2 separate regions of the Homo sapiens genome follow, and region 2 is linked to region 1. The links come from fine-mapping of genetic effects on gene expression. Tissue or cell type: tibial nerve. Region 1 holds a variant in brackets; the other region holds the start of a gene. All regions are shown on one strand. Distances are from middle to middle.

Evidence for each region. PIP is the estimated chance that this variant, and not a neighbour inherited with it, causes the effect.
Region 2: CASC18 starts here. The variant in region 1 is fine-mapped to the expression of CASC18 in tibial nerve (GTEx, PIP 0.98).

What each region holds. Positions count from the first base shown.
Region 1 is chr12:106,054,960-106,063,069 of GRCh38, reverse strand. No RefSeq gene overlaps it. Among named protein-coding and RNA genes, the nearest start is that of NUAK1, 80 kb to the left of the region's middle. The variant C/A (reference allele first, on the strand shown) is at 4,034.
Region 2 is chr12:105,699,840-105,707,949 of GRCh38, reverse strand. It overlaps CASC18 (cancer susceptibility 18), which reads right to left and starts at 3,747. Exons shown (of 5, transcript NR_110109.1): 1 at 3,694-3,747. It overlaps LOC105369959 (a long non-coding RNA gene), which reads left to right. Exons shown (of 3, transcript XR_945309.3): 2 at 1,114-1,185; 3 at 2,384-2,834.

The DNA of each region.
Region 1 (8,110 bases):
CCTTGGCTTATCCCGTAGCTTCCAAATTTACATGTTCTCAGTCTTGGTTTCCAAAAGAGACTACTCACCAGGTTCCTTAGTTCTGAACTGGAGACGTCATCAAAGGCTAACACTCAGCCACGCTCTTTCTCCACATTTCAGTTTCCTGTGCCTGCCCTTTCCCTAGGCACTCCCCTCTATCCCAAGGGCAGGAAGTTGCTAATCTGATTGGGATTAATCAGAGTCCAAGATCAGTGGGTCACGATTTCCTAATGGGGAAGGCCACTCACGGCTCTGCCTAGAATGACAGTATCTTGAGTCCCATTTTGCCACTGTTTCTTGTGTAAATAGACCCTCCAGAAAGCTCTTGGAAGGAGAGGTGCATCATAGAGCAAGATTGAAGAGTTCCTGGATCCTGGCCATAATATCAGGTGACATCAAACCCTACCCTAGTATCAAACATTAGAGAGTGATGCTGTGCACAGAATAGTAGTGTTTTAGGATCCATGCCAGAAAAGTCTGACTTTCCAAAGAAATTACAACTTGCACCCCTTTTCTAGTTTACTGGAAGAACATCTGATGTAGCATTGTCACATTTAGCAAATAAAACTACAGAATGCCTAGTTACATTTGAACTTCACATATACTATGAATAATTTTTCAATATAAGTGTGTTCCAGACAATATTTGGGTCATGCTTATACTAAAAAAAAAAAAAAAAGAAATTCAAATTTAACTGAGCATACTGTATACTATCTGGCAACCTAACCTGATAGGGCTTAGTTGTCCAAATTGACCAGGTGCTGGGTGTGGTAGGAGGTTGGGGAATGGATGCTTATAATTGTGGCTTGCCAAATTAGAACACGTTGGTGCCTCTCAGGTTGGGCTGAGGTTGGAAGAATTCCAAGTTCAGTCTGGACTTGATAATTGCAATTAAGTTGCTACACCTTTTTGGAACTCAGCTTTCTCAGCTGTCTAATGGGTATATTAATTGCTCTCTTATCCAACTCTAACAGGGCTACGAAAAAGAAGGAATGAGAGAAATTCTATGAAGTCACCTTGAGTATAAAACTCAATATGAATGAGAAACAATAGTCCTTTCTTTGCAGGGCAATAGTCACTGACTTAAAATAGGACATTTAAAGGCCTGTGGGCTTTTAATTCTTGCTTCAACCCCTGCCACCACTAGCAAATGGGCAGTAAGTTGCAGTTAGAGGGGCTGTAGGTCATTTGTGGAGTACGTTTACTTAGAAGTGTGACCCTTGGAAAATACATAATTCTGTATCCAGGCAGAAAGAATAGCCTGTGCATGGCCTAGAGGCTGGACCAAATGTGACATAGTAAGGGTAGTGAAAAAATAGGGGTGACTGTAGTGGCAGCAGTTGACATGTTGACAACTGTTGTGGGGTTAATGGGCAGTGGTCACTTTAAGGAGGAAAGTTGAGAGAACTAACATGTATTTAACTTCTACGTAATGCCCACTCCATCTTTATTCAGTAGCAAATGGCAGAAATCCACTCAGACCATATTAAGTAATGATTAATTTACTGCTTCATGGAACCGAGAAGCCCAAGTGTGTGTCTCAGGCACAGTTGGATCCAGGAGTTCAAGGGATCTCATTGGCCTCTTTTTCACTCACTCTCCCTGGATGAGGCTTTATTCTTAGGCAGGCCCTCTCCACATGGCAGCAAGACAGCTCCTGGCCAAAGCAGGGTTATGACGCTTTTTTAGAGTGTGATCCTCAAACCAGAGAGGTTCTTAATGTCCTAGCATTTAGGGAACAAGGAAGGACTGTGATTGGCTTTGTTTGGGTCATGTGTCTCCTCCTGGCCCATCACAGAGTCTGGGTGGAGAAGTGCTCTGATTGGCCAGCCTGGATCATGTACGCACCTTGTGGTATATTTAAATGACACGGAATCACACAGAATGTGGGAGAACAGCTCCCCAAAGGAAGGAATGCAGAGCCAACGATGTTAGTTACACTTTTTGGGCCTCAATTTCCTCACCCATATAATAGCATTAAATAATCGCTAATTTTCAGAGTTATTGTGAAGATTAAATGAAATAAAGTTCCTAACGTGGTGCCTGGCACATAGTGGATTTTTAATTTATACAGATAATCTCAGGGAAGACAACAGTAGTAATACATTAGAGAGAAGATATATTTGTTAGGAAGATTTTAGATGTAAAATCAGCTATAATATCAGAAAATTCAGCTGAAATTGGCTTAAACACTACAAGGGCTTTATCAGCTCATACACCTGGAATTCTAGAGGTTGGGGAGTTTCCCAGTTACTTGGGTCTAGTGAAAGAAGTTACATACACACCCCCCACAATTACATATAGTAAGTTCTATGGAAGAAATGGATATGGTACAGAGATAGAGGAGTAAGGGTGGGAGCTACCTCCTGCAGAAAGAGCATTCAGGGAAGGCATCTCTGAAGAGGTGACTTTTGGGCAGAGATCTGAAGATGAAGACTAGTCATATGTAAAGTGAGCATTCTGGGCAGAAAGAACAGTATCTGCAAGGGCCCTGGGGTCTTCACATTAGAGCTTTACAGGATTAGTTTCTGGTTCCATTGGCATAGGACAGCCATGATCCAGGGAACGTGATGTTTTGTTAAACATGTGTGGCCACGTTCTAATATGGACTGAATGTGATCGTTTGTGACTTTGTGTACAGATGGCTGCTTCCTTCAACAGGTGGTCCCCAGACAAATATACATGGCTAGATGTGTAGTTTTAAATGAGAATTGTTTCCGCTGCAGAAATTCACTGCCAATTTATTGAAATTTATGGAGAGGATGTTTTTAATCTACAGAATCATGCAAAGTTTGGGGTATGGAAGTGGAACAGCAGCGTTGCTATATGAAGACCAGAAAGTGCAGACAAAGGGGTTTTCACGTCACAAGCCTTGTCTCCTCCTGGCACAACTGTCTGGTTCCAGTAGGGGGTTGCCTGGGAAATTTGCAATCAACTTTGTTGTAAAATCATGAGTTATTTTCATCCTGATGAAAAATTTACACAGCCCTTCTCTACCTGACTGGGAATATCCATTGTACCTCGACCAGCTGGTTCCCCATCCACTCCCTGTACTAGTGTTTGTTTGTGAATTAGTCTGGACATACTATGTTATGCTGAAGTAGCAGACAAACCCTGAAATGTCAATGGCTCAATATAATAAACAACAATTTCTCACTACCACTAAGTCCAGTACAGGGCTGTTCTCTTTTCATGTCACCTTCAAGCAGGTGCTCAAACATCTGAGCTTCTTCTATCCTGTGGTTCTGACATCTCCAGGTTCTTCATTGCTAGCTGTGCAAATGAAGGAAAGAGCAGAAGTCAGAACCTTTTAAAGATGAGGCCTAGATGTGGTGTGCATCATTTGTGCCCACCTCCCATTGGTCAGAACTCAGCCATCTGACCTCGACCTAATCATAGACAGTCCTCAAGTCTATAGTACTTAAAAAGTGAAAAGTAAAATGGAATCAGACGAACACTTAGCAATGTTTCTGCCACGGCTTATTTTTGCTTCCCGGGGGAACTCTCACCGTTAAGAAAAATAATTATTGTTAGTATTAACCAAGTGCTTACCCGGCAGCAGTCCGTATGCCTACCCTTTGCATATATTATCTCTTTGAATGTTCCTCATGTTCCTTTATCTCCATTTTTACAGATGAGGAAACACTTTTGGAAAAGTGCAGTAACTTGCCCAAGTCAACCAACTGTTAAATGTGCATCTGGATTCAAATATGGGCCTGGGTGACTGACTTTCAAGTCCAAGCTCTTAGTTGCTCTGTTGGGAATCAGGGATGATGATTCTGCAACTCAGTCTCCTCGACAGTAAGCCCAGCCTGTTGCCATCTCTGTTGATATAAACAGCATTTTCCTGCAGGAGCTGAGCAGATATCAGGAACAAAGACAGTTGCCCAAATCAATGCATTCTCCAAACAAACATGGAGAAGAGAGCAACTGTCCCCAATACCCCACTGATGTGAAATTCTAGAAGCTCCAGTCTCAGCAGATGGAATTAATAGAATGATTCATGTTTCTT[C/A]ACTACTCTACTGTGGGATGGGATGGAGGTGACTCCATCCTGAGCACCTGCAATGGCTCAGAATTCAGTAAAGGAGACAGCAGGCCTCCAGTGGCTGTCCAAAGCTGTGCATACACATATTCCAACAGGGCTCAATGTGGTCTCTTCTGTGTTGTGGTGCCTCAGGGGACCCTGCTTCTAGAGGACTGAGAGCTCAAAGCAACCTGGTTGGTGCCATATGGAAACACAGGATGCCAGGCTGTGTTGCATGGACCTGCCTGGGGTCAGGCACTGCAACAGCAGCTTCATCACATAAAAATCTGTGGGTCATCATGTCTTCAAAGCCCAGTACAGGGCGATGACGCTGGCATGGCCCCCAACCAGACTTCCAGAGAAACACCTCACTGTCAGTGAAATTCAGGGTTGGGGACAGTTCATTTTGGAGGCAGCTGGAGAAAAGGGACTCCAAAAAATAGCTAGCTTGAGAATGTTCTGCAAGTTGGAAGTTGTGAATCACTGAAGCTGAAAAACATCTGATTCAGCAGTGCCTAGGGCATTCCAGAAGTTTCAGCTGTCAGGCTTTGGAGTCCAGACAAAAGCATGTGTGTGGAGCAGAAAGCCAGATGCAGACCTCTTACCCCGTCCTGCTGGTCATCTCCAAAGGCATGGTTGTGGGTTCAATTGCTAGGAAGTACAGATGGTCCCTGGAAATGGGTTCTGCTTAGACTGGCTTCTTATAAACACGTGTAGCTGAGCACTATTTTGATGAAGGAGAGAGACATGGTGGCTGGGGTAAAGTTGCCTCCCATTTTAGAGAAACAACTTATAATCACATTCTCAGGTCCTTTGGGGATCTAGAGTGGTGGGATCATGTTGCCCATGAAGCTACGTTGGAGCTAATAGGAGTGCTCCCTGTTGAGAAGGAGATTTCAAAGTGAAGAAACAGATTGAAAGAGGTGAGTTATCCATCAAGTTTGCAGTGCAGTCATGGCATGTCAGTGCTTTGACTAGTTTCATCCAAGATTTTTCCTATTCTTGCACCAGAAGAGAAAGAAATACATTTATTTTTGTTTTAAGTTACCCAGTCTCAGATATTCAATTATAGCAACAGAAAATGGACTAAGATAGTCATTTTCATATTATTGAGTTCTAAGAGTTTTTTGTATATACTAGACACAGGGATTTTGTGAGATACATTTTTATAAATATTTCCCCAGTTGTTGAATTTGCCTTTTATTTTTGATTAATAGAGTGCTTTGAAAAGCAGAGGCTTTGAATTTAGATAAAGTCAATTTTATAAGTTTTTTAATGGTTAAGGTTTTTGTGTCCTATCTCAGAAATTTTTGCCTACATTCATGTTGCAAATATTTTCTTTATGTTGTCTTTTAAAAGCTTTATATTTAAGTTTTTGCATTTACGTGTATGATCTATTTTAAGGTAATTTTTGTTTACTATGTGGGGAAAGATTGAATTTTACTTATTTTTTTCTGTATGAGATGTTAGTTGTTGGAGTGCTATTTATTGAAAAGATCATTCTTTCTCTGTTAAATTGACATAGCACCCTTGTAAAAAAATTAACTATGGATGTGTGGGTCTATTTCTGACCCTGTATTCCTTCCCATTAACTGGTCAATCATTTTGCCAAAATCACACTGCCTTGATTGTTGTAGCTTTTAGTAACTTTTGAAATCATATAACTTTGTTCCTATTTTAAAAATTATTTTGGATATTTTGGGTCCTTTGCATTTCCAAATAAATTTTAGAATCAGTTGTTCATTTCAACAAAGCAGACTGCTAAGATTTTGATTGCAATTACAATAAATCTATAAATCATCTGGGGAGAACTGACATGTTAACAATACTAAGTCTCCCAACTCATGGACAGAGTGTATGTATTTATTTAGGCCTTCTTTTATTTCTCTCAGCACTAATTTTTATTTTCAGTACGCAGGAATTACACTGTTTTTGTTAAATTTATTCCTATGTATGTTATACTTTTGAACTATTATAAATGGAATTCTTTACAAATTTATTTTCCAAGTTTTTTTGTGGCTAGTATATAGAAATATAGTTGAATTTTATGAATTGGCTAAATTCACTTAGTAGTCCTACCTACTAGTTGTTTTTAAAGATCTAGTAGAATTTTCCATGTGGGTGGATTTTCCATTTTAGGTTCTCTGTGTATAAAATCTGTTCTACTTCTTCCTTTTTAATTTGTATGTTTGTATTTCTTTTCCTCGCCTCATTACAATACAACAAAACACACCTAGTGCTAGGATATCCAGTATCATGTTGAATAGACATAGACTGAGCAAATGTCTTTCCTCATTCTGAATTTAGTGAGAAATATTAAGTCTTTCACGATTATGTATAATGTTAGTTATAAATGTCTTCTACCAAGTCGAGGAAGTTTCTTTTCTTTTCGAAATGGAGTCTGGCTCTGTCGCCCAGGCTGGAGTGCAGTGGTGAGATCTTGGCTCACTGCAACCTCCACCTCCCGGGGTCAAACAATTCTCCTGCCTCAGCCTCCCAAGCAGCTGGGATTACACGGGCCCACCAATATGCCCAGCTAATTTTTGTATTTTTAGTAGAGATGGGGTTTCACCATGTTGGCCAGGCTGATCTCGAACTCCTGACCTCAGGTGATCCACCCACCTCTTGGCCTCCCAAAATGCTGGGATTACAGGCATGAGCCACTGTGCCTGGCCAGAAGTTTCTTTACATTCCTAGTTTGCTGAGAGATTTCTTTAAAGTTATAAATGGGTAAAGAAATTTGTTAAATATTTTTCTTAAGTTTATTAGGATAATTATGTTTTTTCTTCTTTACTATGTTAATATGGTGATTGTATTGAATGAATTTTGAATATTAAACCAACCTTGCCTTCCTGGGATAATTTTCACTTCATGTTGTATTGTTCTTTAAATATATTGCCAAATTTGTTTTGCTGATATTTTGTAAAAGATGTTCTTTTCATGCAAGACATTGGTTTATAGTTTCTCTCTCTCTCTCTTTAATGTCTTTGGTTTTGTCATCAGGGCAATGGTGACCTTAAACGGTGTTTGAAAATCTTGTCGTCCTTTCTATTGTCTGTAACTGTTTGTGTACAATTGGCATTATTTCTTCATTAAATATTTGATTTAGTATACCAGTGAAGGTATTTGGACCTGGAATTTCCTTTGTGGAAAGGTTTAATGTCATTATTTTTTATCCTTTCTTCTATTCAAGTATAGGCACCGAAAGCTGTATGGTTTTGTCTAATAATTGCTGAAGCATCCCACAAATATTGACATGGTGTGTTTTCATTTTCATTTGCTTCAAAATATTTTCAGATTTCCATGTTGATTTCTTCTTTTCATATTTACTTATAATCTTATGGTTGCTGTGTTTTCACTCTTTTGTGTTCCAAGTCTCCCTCTGGTATCAGTTTTCTTCCTCATGAAGAACTTCCATGAATATGTCTTCTTGTGAAGATCAATTAGTGACTTCTCTCAGCTTTTGTTTGTCTGAAAAAAAATCTTTATTTCAACTCTAAGTTTGAAAGATATTTTTTCCAGTTAGCAAAATTTACATGACATTTTACGTCTTTATCCCTCAAAGATATCAGTCCCCTGTCTTCCGGTTTGCATAGTTTCTGTTGAGACATCTGAGATAATTTTTCTCTTTGTTCTCTGGGTTTATCATGTCTGTTTTTCTGTGCAACTTTGCATATTTTTCGTTTATTACTTATTTCTTTAGCAATTGATTGTGATTTCTCTTGGTATGGTTTTCTATGTGTTTATCTTTCCTTGAGCTCATTGACCTTCTTGCATCTGTAAGTTTATAGATGTCATAAAAAATTTAGATTTTAAAATTGTCATTATAAATTCAATATTTTTTCTGTTCATCTTTCTCCTTCTGGAACTCCAGCAACGTATATGTTATACCGTTTGATATTGTCCTACAGCTCAGTGAGTCTCTGTTTATATTTTTCAGTCTTTTTCTTTTTCTTTGTGGCTCCTCTTGAAATTCTTTCATTTCTGAAAGTGCCATTTGGCGTGTGTGTGTGTATGGTGTGTGTCACACACACACACTATATACACTATGGATAGATCTATCTA
Region 2 (8,110 bases), 360 kb after region 1:
GTAAGTAGGAGTGTGAAGGGAGAAAGCCAGAAACGGGTTTTAATATGGATGTGCAAAAAAGTTCAAGGAAAGACGAAGAGGAAAAGAAAGCAAGCCTTCCATGTTTATCTGCTCCATCTATTTCCTGCCTGTAATTTATGCCATAGGTTAATTCCCGGGAAGTAGGAAAAAGACTCACCTTGTACTACAGTTAAATCTTGTGGAGAATAAGTAAAATTCCAAACATATCCCAAAGTAATGTAAGAGCAGAGGCCTCTTATTTTGCAGAGGAAAGAGGCCTCCTAAAAATGCTGCACACAGATGTTTAAGCATCAGAGAGACATGGACTAGTAGATCCTTGGAGCGAAAAGGTGCAGAGAGAGAAATCGCCCAGTCCAGAGGAAGAACATGAACCCCGGAGTGGAGAGGAGTCCCTCCCAAATTTACAGGGCAAGTCAGCGGCAGAGCTGGTCTAGAAACTGCACCCCTGACTTCTAGCCCCTGCCTGATTCTGTGCGCCCATGTAAGCTCTAAAGGACGCCATTCACTATGTGGTCCCAGTCAAATCTTCTATGTGCTATGTACGATGGTTGACCCAAAAAGAATTGTCTCATCATTGCCCTTCCCCTCCCCTCTGCAAAACAAAACAAAACAAAAAAAAACCTTGTGGCTTTGTCCTTACTAGGCAACAATTTCATCACACTTTGTCATTTAGTAAGTATAAAACAGCCAGCCAACTTCTAAGGACAGAAATACACATCCCCGGTCTAATTCTTGCCTCTAGCCTTTCAAAGCTCAAGGCCTGGCTTTGGGGCAAGAGGGTCCACGTGTATATGTGTGTGTGCACGTGTGTGCATGTGTGTGGGTGTGTGTGGCAGGGGATAGAAAGCCCATCACATGTACCTGGAACACAGCTTTGATCCACATCTTTCTCAGCCCAGTAAAAAACTTGTAGCCACTAAAGCATCTGAGCACTGAAGCATCTTAACCACTAAAGCATGTGGGGCATTGTCATCTGACCCCACTGCCATAGGCCCCTTTTTACAGATGGCTGAATACTTTCTCAATGAGGCCATTGCACTTGCCCTGAGGGGGAGGACCTCTCATCACTCACCTGCTGCCATTCTTTTCCAGGGCCCAGAACAATCCCAGGGGCCTTAACTACAGACTCTAATTGGGCGCATCAGCATCACGAGTAGGACTCAAGTAAGAAAGGGGCATATTTATGTTTCTTATCGTGCGTCTACAGGGAGGGGCTGAAAAGGACTCAAAAGCCTATGAAAACTTGTATTGCAGATGGGGAGGAGGGATGAGGGTAGAAACAAAAAATAATATACAGCACTTTATCCAACCATTTTATAACAAGTTGAAATCAGGCTCCTTCCAGATTGAAATGGATCCTCCAGTCCCATAATTAAATTGGGAAAATGAAGCCATTTCATGCCTTTGGCTCCCTTTGATCATTGTTATTTCTGTGACTAATGTGTAACTGGAGCTGCTTTTTCTGGGGCATGAGCCTCGCCTGGGCAGCTGCTAGGAGAGTGTGGCCTGGTCTCCTGTTGTCAGCGCAAGCTGACGGCAAGGCCAGGGCTCAGCAAGGTCAGGTTAGTCTCAGCCAAAGTGGACTGGAAGAGATGCACCTGCGCTGACAAGCAGCTATCTGTTCCCATTTGCCTCTGACTGCATTTCTCCAGGGCCTCCCTTGTCCTGGAGAACTCTTGGGTGGGAACTGGTGTTTTTTCCCTTGAAAGGAAGAGATAGAGGACATTTCAAGAGATAGGAGCAGAACATTGCCTCTCAAATTGTAAAGAAGGTGACTTCTGAAGCTCATCATTTTAATTTTCCCTCCCCTTTGTCCCTCATCAACTTCTATTCCTGCATCCTCCCTAACCCCTCCATGCGTGCATCACACACACACATACACACACACATACACTCACACTCACACGCTGGGCACAGCAGGCATGCAAGCACAGTTGGGAATTCTGTGAGTCCTTCTAGACTAAGGAAACTCAAACTAAAAAGTAAAATCTATTAATAACAACTCCCTCCTCCCCATTTACTACGGAATTTGCTCTTGCGGATTCTCTAGAGCGCCCTCATGTGACGCCCTGTTGTAATAGCATTCAAGACTTTGGAAGGATATAAGGATCTGTTGAAACACTGTATCACCACAATTCAAAGTATCACTTTTCCGGATGAATAACGCCTAGTATTTGATAGCACAAAACGAGGACTGTAGTCAATAATAATTTAATTGTACATTTTTTTAAATGCCCAAATTATTTAAATTTCAGAAAGAGATGGGCCCTTCAGGGAGAGGAAGGCTCGGCTGTCTTAATCTCTGGGAGCCCTGTAGAAGAATGAGAAGACAAACAGCTGACTTTTTTCTAATTTTTAACAGCTACTTGTGGACCAAGGTGACACTTAGGAATCCCAAGAAGCTCCAGCCATAAAGGGAGTCGGTATCCTTCCTCCAATTGTAAACCCCAGCACTCCCACTGAACACACTGGCCATGCCAAAAGTTCACACATCGGCCACGCAAAGAGCTCAAAGAGATCCATTCAGTACCTGGGAAGGCACGATCACTACGGGGAGAATCAGAAACCACGCGATCGCCAGGTGGCCTTCAAAGAAGCCTCCTCCCAGAAGGTCCAGAATCCCATCCAGAGACATTTCTGTCACTCTTCTCAAGCCACCTCATCATCTCTCTCTGCAGTTGAACTGCTGATGTTTCTGAGATTGTGGGTTTGTTCAAAATGAAGCTTGGCAGAATCATAATTTATAGGCTAATATTTTGTAAGTAGAGACAATTCATGACTTAGAATCTTATGAATAAATTGCTCCTGTTTTATTGCTCTGTGTGTGTGTGTGTGTGGGTGTGGGTGTGGGTGTGGGTGTGTGTGCATATAACTTTTCTTTTTCCACGTTTACCTCTTGAGTGGGCCCATTAAACTGAGAAGTACTGCGTGAGGTCTTGAGATAGCACAAGCCTTCGCCACCCCTGTAAAGGTGTGACGTGTGTCTAGGCAAAACCCTGGCAGGTCTCCAGGCGGTCCTTCTGAGTTAGGGCTCTGAACACTCTCTCTTAAAGCCCTGAGCTATGAACACAGCTTTGAACGGGACAGAGAAAGACCAAGTCAGAGGGGGAGCAGCTGTGTCTTTCTCCTCTCTGCTTCATTATAGACAAAATTGACCTCTGGGCCAAGTCTCATTAACTAATTGAAGAGTTCATAGTCACACAGTGTTTCTCAAAACGAGATTCAGAGAACACGAGCATCAGAAACACCTGAAGTGTTTGTTGGAATTGCAGCTACCTGGGCCCCATTTGGTGCCTGTTGAATCAGAATCTGTGGTATAAGAACCTAAGATCTGCATTTCCAATACACTTATAAGTTGAGTGTCAAGCACAGTAAAGTTTGGGCAGCCCGTCCCTTAATCTTTTCACATCCCGTCAGATTACAGATTTATATTTTAACAAAAGCCTTTATTTCCATAAGCCAACAGGGGAACTTCAGATACTGCTGTGGGGCAGCAGGGGAGATGTTGTTAAGCAAAGGGAGAAGGGCTTCCAGCGCCTCTTGATTTTTTCTGCAGAGGTAGCTGCACATGCAGCTGGTCAGAGTTTACCTTCTATGTCCTACCCCTGTGAATGCACCCCAGAGCTGGAGCACGCATTGAGGTCAGGGGGGCGCCTACCTGGAAGGACCTACCTGGAAACTGGATATCCAGTGAGGAGAGGAGAAGGGGCTGTCAGAAAATCAGCTCACCTCTAGACGGCGGCAACTCAGATAAGAGGAGCTTGTACTTCCGGTCTCTCCTCCCTCATCCCTTTCTGGTTGGGAAATTTTGTTCAAGCTACCGCTGTATGCTTCTGTTTTCTCTGAAGAAAATGGAGACTAATATTTATGCCTGCCTCAATAAATACATTTTTATTATAATTAATTTTGAAAGGTCCTGAGATTGGTAGGAAGATCACGTCCTCAGAGGCAGGTGTTGTGAACAGTGGATATGAAGTTGCATGGAAAATCTTCCACATGCTCAGTCCATCCCCAAGGGAAAAGGAATGTCTGGTGGGAAGTGAAGAGCTCTGAGCCCCTGCCTTCTCTGCTGCAGCACCCACCATCTTCCTCTTCTATTCCAGCCATGCGAGGCTTTTTTCTATTCCTTGAACCCAACAAACATTGCTCGTCTTCAGCCAGGATTGGGAAGCACTGCTCAATCCACTGCTGTATATAAATCTAGCTCACGGGTTGGGACTTTTCAGGCAGGGAAAGGCTCATTAGGAAACTGAGGCTGATTTTGGATGTTTCCAGGTCAGGAAGGTTGTATGTGTAGGTTTTCTTCTGCATTGGGCACAGAACATTGGATGGTCATTCTCATTCCCATCTTTGGCAAGGGCTGGGATGAAGTATGTGCTGGTGGTTCCTGAGCTGCCTAGCAGAGACGTGGGCTTGGGGAGGAGGACATTTTCTTTCCAGCAGGTGCTCGAGAGGACTCAAAGAGGTGATGAATGGAGCAAACAGAGCCTGGACTCCATCCAGGTAGACAGGGCTTATACCCAAATCTGTCACTTACTAGTTGTATGATCTTGGTTAAGCCTTAGTTTCCTCCTCTATAAAATGACTCTAAATAGTAACACCTACCTCAGAGTTGTTATGAAGATTAACAGACATAAGGTGTGTAAACCAATTACACTGTGTCTAGTACACATGACTGCCCTGTTCATACTAACTATGGTGATTTGATGTTTGGGAGCCACGCTTTTTAGTCTTTAAGGTCTGTGTAATCTCGCTGTCTTGTTTTATTTTATATTTCCCCATTTATTCTCTATTCTCGCTCCTGTTTCCTCCCATTTCCCTCTCCTGTCTTCCTTCCTGGGATTTCTTATATGTCCTTAGATTATCTCCAAAAAACACAGAACTTGGTTTTGTGTGTATATTAAAGTTTAATATCCTTAAGTAGTAACGTGCTATAAATCGTTTACCACCTTTTGCACTCAACACTAAGATTTTTAGAGGTATCCATATTATGGTTTGCCAGTGGTTCTCAACTTCACTATGAAACAGAATCACTTGGGAGCTTTTGAAAAATTTCAATACCTGGACCTCCATTCCAGTTATTCTGATTTAATTTGTCTAGGGTGCGGGCCAAGCCTCAGGTCATTCTAAAGTGCAGCCAGGATTGAGAAGCACTGCTCAATCCACTGCTGTATATAAATCTAGCTCACAGGTTGGGACTTCTCAGGCAGGGAAAAGCCCGGGGTTCACCTTTTTCTGCCTCACCAAGTCTCTGCAGTAAAATCAGGTGATGACGACCCTAAGGACAGCGTTAAAAGGAAAAAGAAGAGAGGAGAAGGCAACTTGCAGCCTAAGGCATATGTAAGAAAGAGCAGAAATCAGAACTCCTACTCTGCCCTATTTGTCAGAGTCATGTTATTGATTCATCTGTTCGTCCATTTAATCACCCAGGATTTACTGAGCTCCTCAGACATTCTGCTAGGTGCAGGGAATACAGCAGTGAACAGGGTAGACAGTCTCAACACTCAGTGGCTTTCATACCTGTTAAAATAAAGCTTCTCAGGCCTCATGTCGAGAGCTTCTGACCCAGTAGGTACAGGGCTTGGCTCAGGAGTCTACATCTTGAAAAAGTGCAGCAGGTGATACCAATGCCTATGATCCTGGGAATCTTTTGTAGAAAATTGGTCTAGCCAATTTATGAGTCAGGTTGTTTTTAAGCATGCTTGATAAATTTAGCCCATTTCTCCCTTTTAGAATTTTTTTTGAAACAGCAGAACCCCTATTTACTATGTGTCTTCAGCAGCAACTACAGCCTTAGAACTCTCTTCCTCTGACTAGACATTCCTATACATGATACCACCAACAATTAATTCATTGTTGCTGGTGCACCCACATTATACAGTTGCTATAGAGTCATGGTCACATTTAAGCCCTACCAAAACTCTGCGAGGTAGGTCTCATCCTTCATATGAGAAAACTGAGGCTCATGTTGGTTAAGTGATTTTCCCAAGATTATACCTCCAGGAATTAACCACATGTCCCTCTGCTTCAAGACCTGGGCTTCTCGCCACCATATTGCATGAGGCTCCCTAGAAGGCCAGGACAGTCTTCACTCATCCTGTTATCTCTTGGAATACCCAACTACACTAACAGATGGCTATTCCAATCACAATCACTGAACCAGTTATTAGCTGGATGCTACATTCTTTCCATACACAAAGTATACAGAGGAATCCCTCTCATCTGGAGTTAACTGGCACTAGTAGCTGGTTGGCTCATTGGAAAAACGTAGCTCAATCTGGGAATCATTAAAAGGTGATGTATGTATACAGTAAGTATTTTATTTTAACCTGAAATATATAAATGTATATTCATGAGCCAGACCTCTAATGTGGAGCCAAAGGGTTTTTTAATTTTTTTCCACTTTAAGTTCTCTGATTGGAGTTTCAGTACTCTTTCTAACATAACCTATACCGATAATATATATTCTAGAACTTCTAATGTTTATTTTCTTAAAGTAGAGTAAAACATATTTGTACCTTCTAAATAAGCTAAGTACAAAATCCTATTAAAATACATAATTCAGGAATATATTAAAATTTTAAATATACAGATAAGTTGATAAAATGGCAAAATAAACACCAAATACCCACTGCCTAAATTAAACAACTGTTAACATTTTGTCGTATTTACCTTATTTCTCATGCTATTTTTAGAGCTGCATCTACATCCATTCATCTATCATCCATCTATACATTGTTTTTTTGCTAAATATTTGAAAATAAGTTGCAGATATCATGACACTTCACCCATAAATATGTCAGCAGGTACCTCCTGAGTATAAGAACACGCCTCTATATCATTTTCACACCCTGAAAAATAATGGTAACTTTAAAATAACATCTGATATTGAGCATTCAAATTTCCCCAACCGTCACAAGACTGTCTTTTAGAGGTGATTTTTTTCTCAATCAAGATTCAGTCTTGGTTCATGCATTGCATTTGATGTTATATTTTTTTGGCCCGCCATTTTTTTTTTTGACAGTGACTTTTGGAAGAGTTCAGACCATTTTGTAATATTCTGGATTGAACTGTTTTCTCATGGTACATGTTTCTCTTTACCCTGTGATATAGTTTGGATATCTGTCCCTTCAAAATCTCATGTCAACATTTGATCCCCAACACTGGAGGTGGAACCTAGTAAGAGGTGTTTGTGTCATGGAGGTGGATCCCTTATGTATAACTTGGTGCTGTCATTGCAGTAATGAGTGAGTTCTCACTATATTAGTTCTCATGAGATCTGATTGTTAAAAAGAGTCTGTCACCTCTTCCCTCTTCTAATCTTGGCAGAAGGTGCAGAGGGAGCTTGTCACATGGCTCCCTCTCTTGTTATGTGACATGCCTGCTCCCTCTGCACCTTCTGCCATGACTAGAAGATTCCTGAAGCCCTCACCAGAATCAGTTGCTGGCACCATGCTTCTTATATAGCCTGCAGAACTGTGAGCCAAATAAACCTCTTTTCTTTATAAACTACCCAGCCTCGGGTATTCCTTTATAGCAACACAATGGTCTAAGACACCCTGAATTCACTGTAAACTGGATTAAGGTTATAAGCTTCAGTAGATTCAGCTTGAATATTTAGGACAGAATTCTTCACTGGGAATGCTGTGTACTTCATATGGCATTACATCTTCTGCAGGTATTTCTGGCAAATAAATATAAGCATTTATCTTAAGTACGTACTTGGAAATGAAATTTCTGAGTCATAGCATATACAAATGTAGTTTTTTCAAGTGGTCATATCAGTTTTCACCCTTCAAATTCATCCTACAAACAGAGTTCCAGTGGCTCCACATCTTCACCAACATTTGAAATTGTCAGTCTAATAAGTTTGTAATGGTATTGGATTATGATTTCAATTTGTCTTTCCCTGATGACCTCGAGCTTATTGTGTGCTTATGGTTTAATTAGATGTAAAGTGCTTAATTATTTTGCTCAGTTTTAAACTGGCATGTCTATCTTTTTAAATAAGTGATTTGTAAGATTAAACATGAGTCTGATTGTTGGTTATATATACTTAAAACATCTCCAACTAGGTGGTTTGCATTTT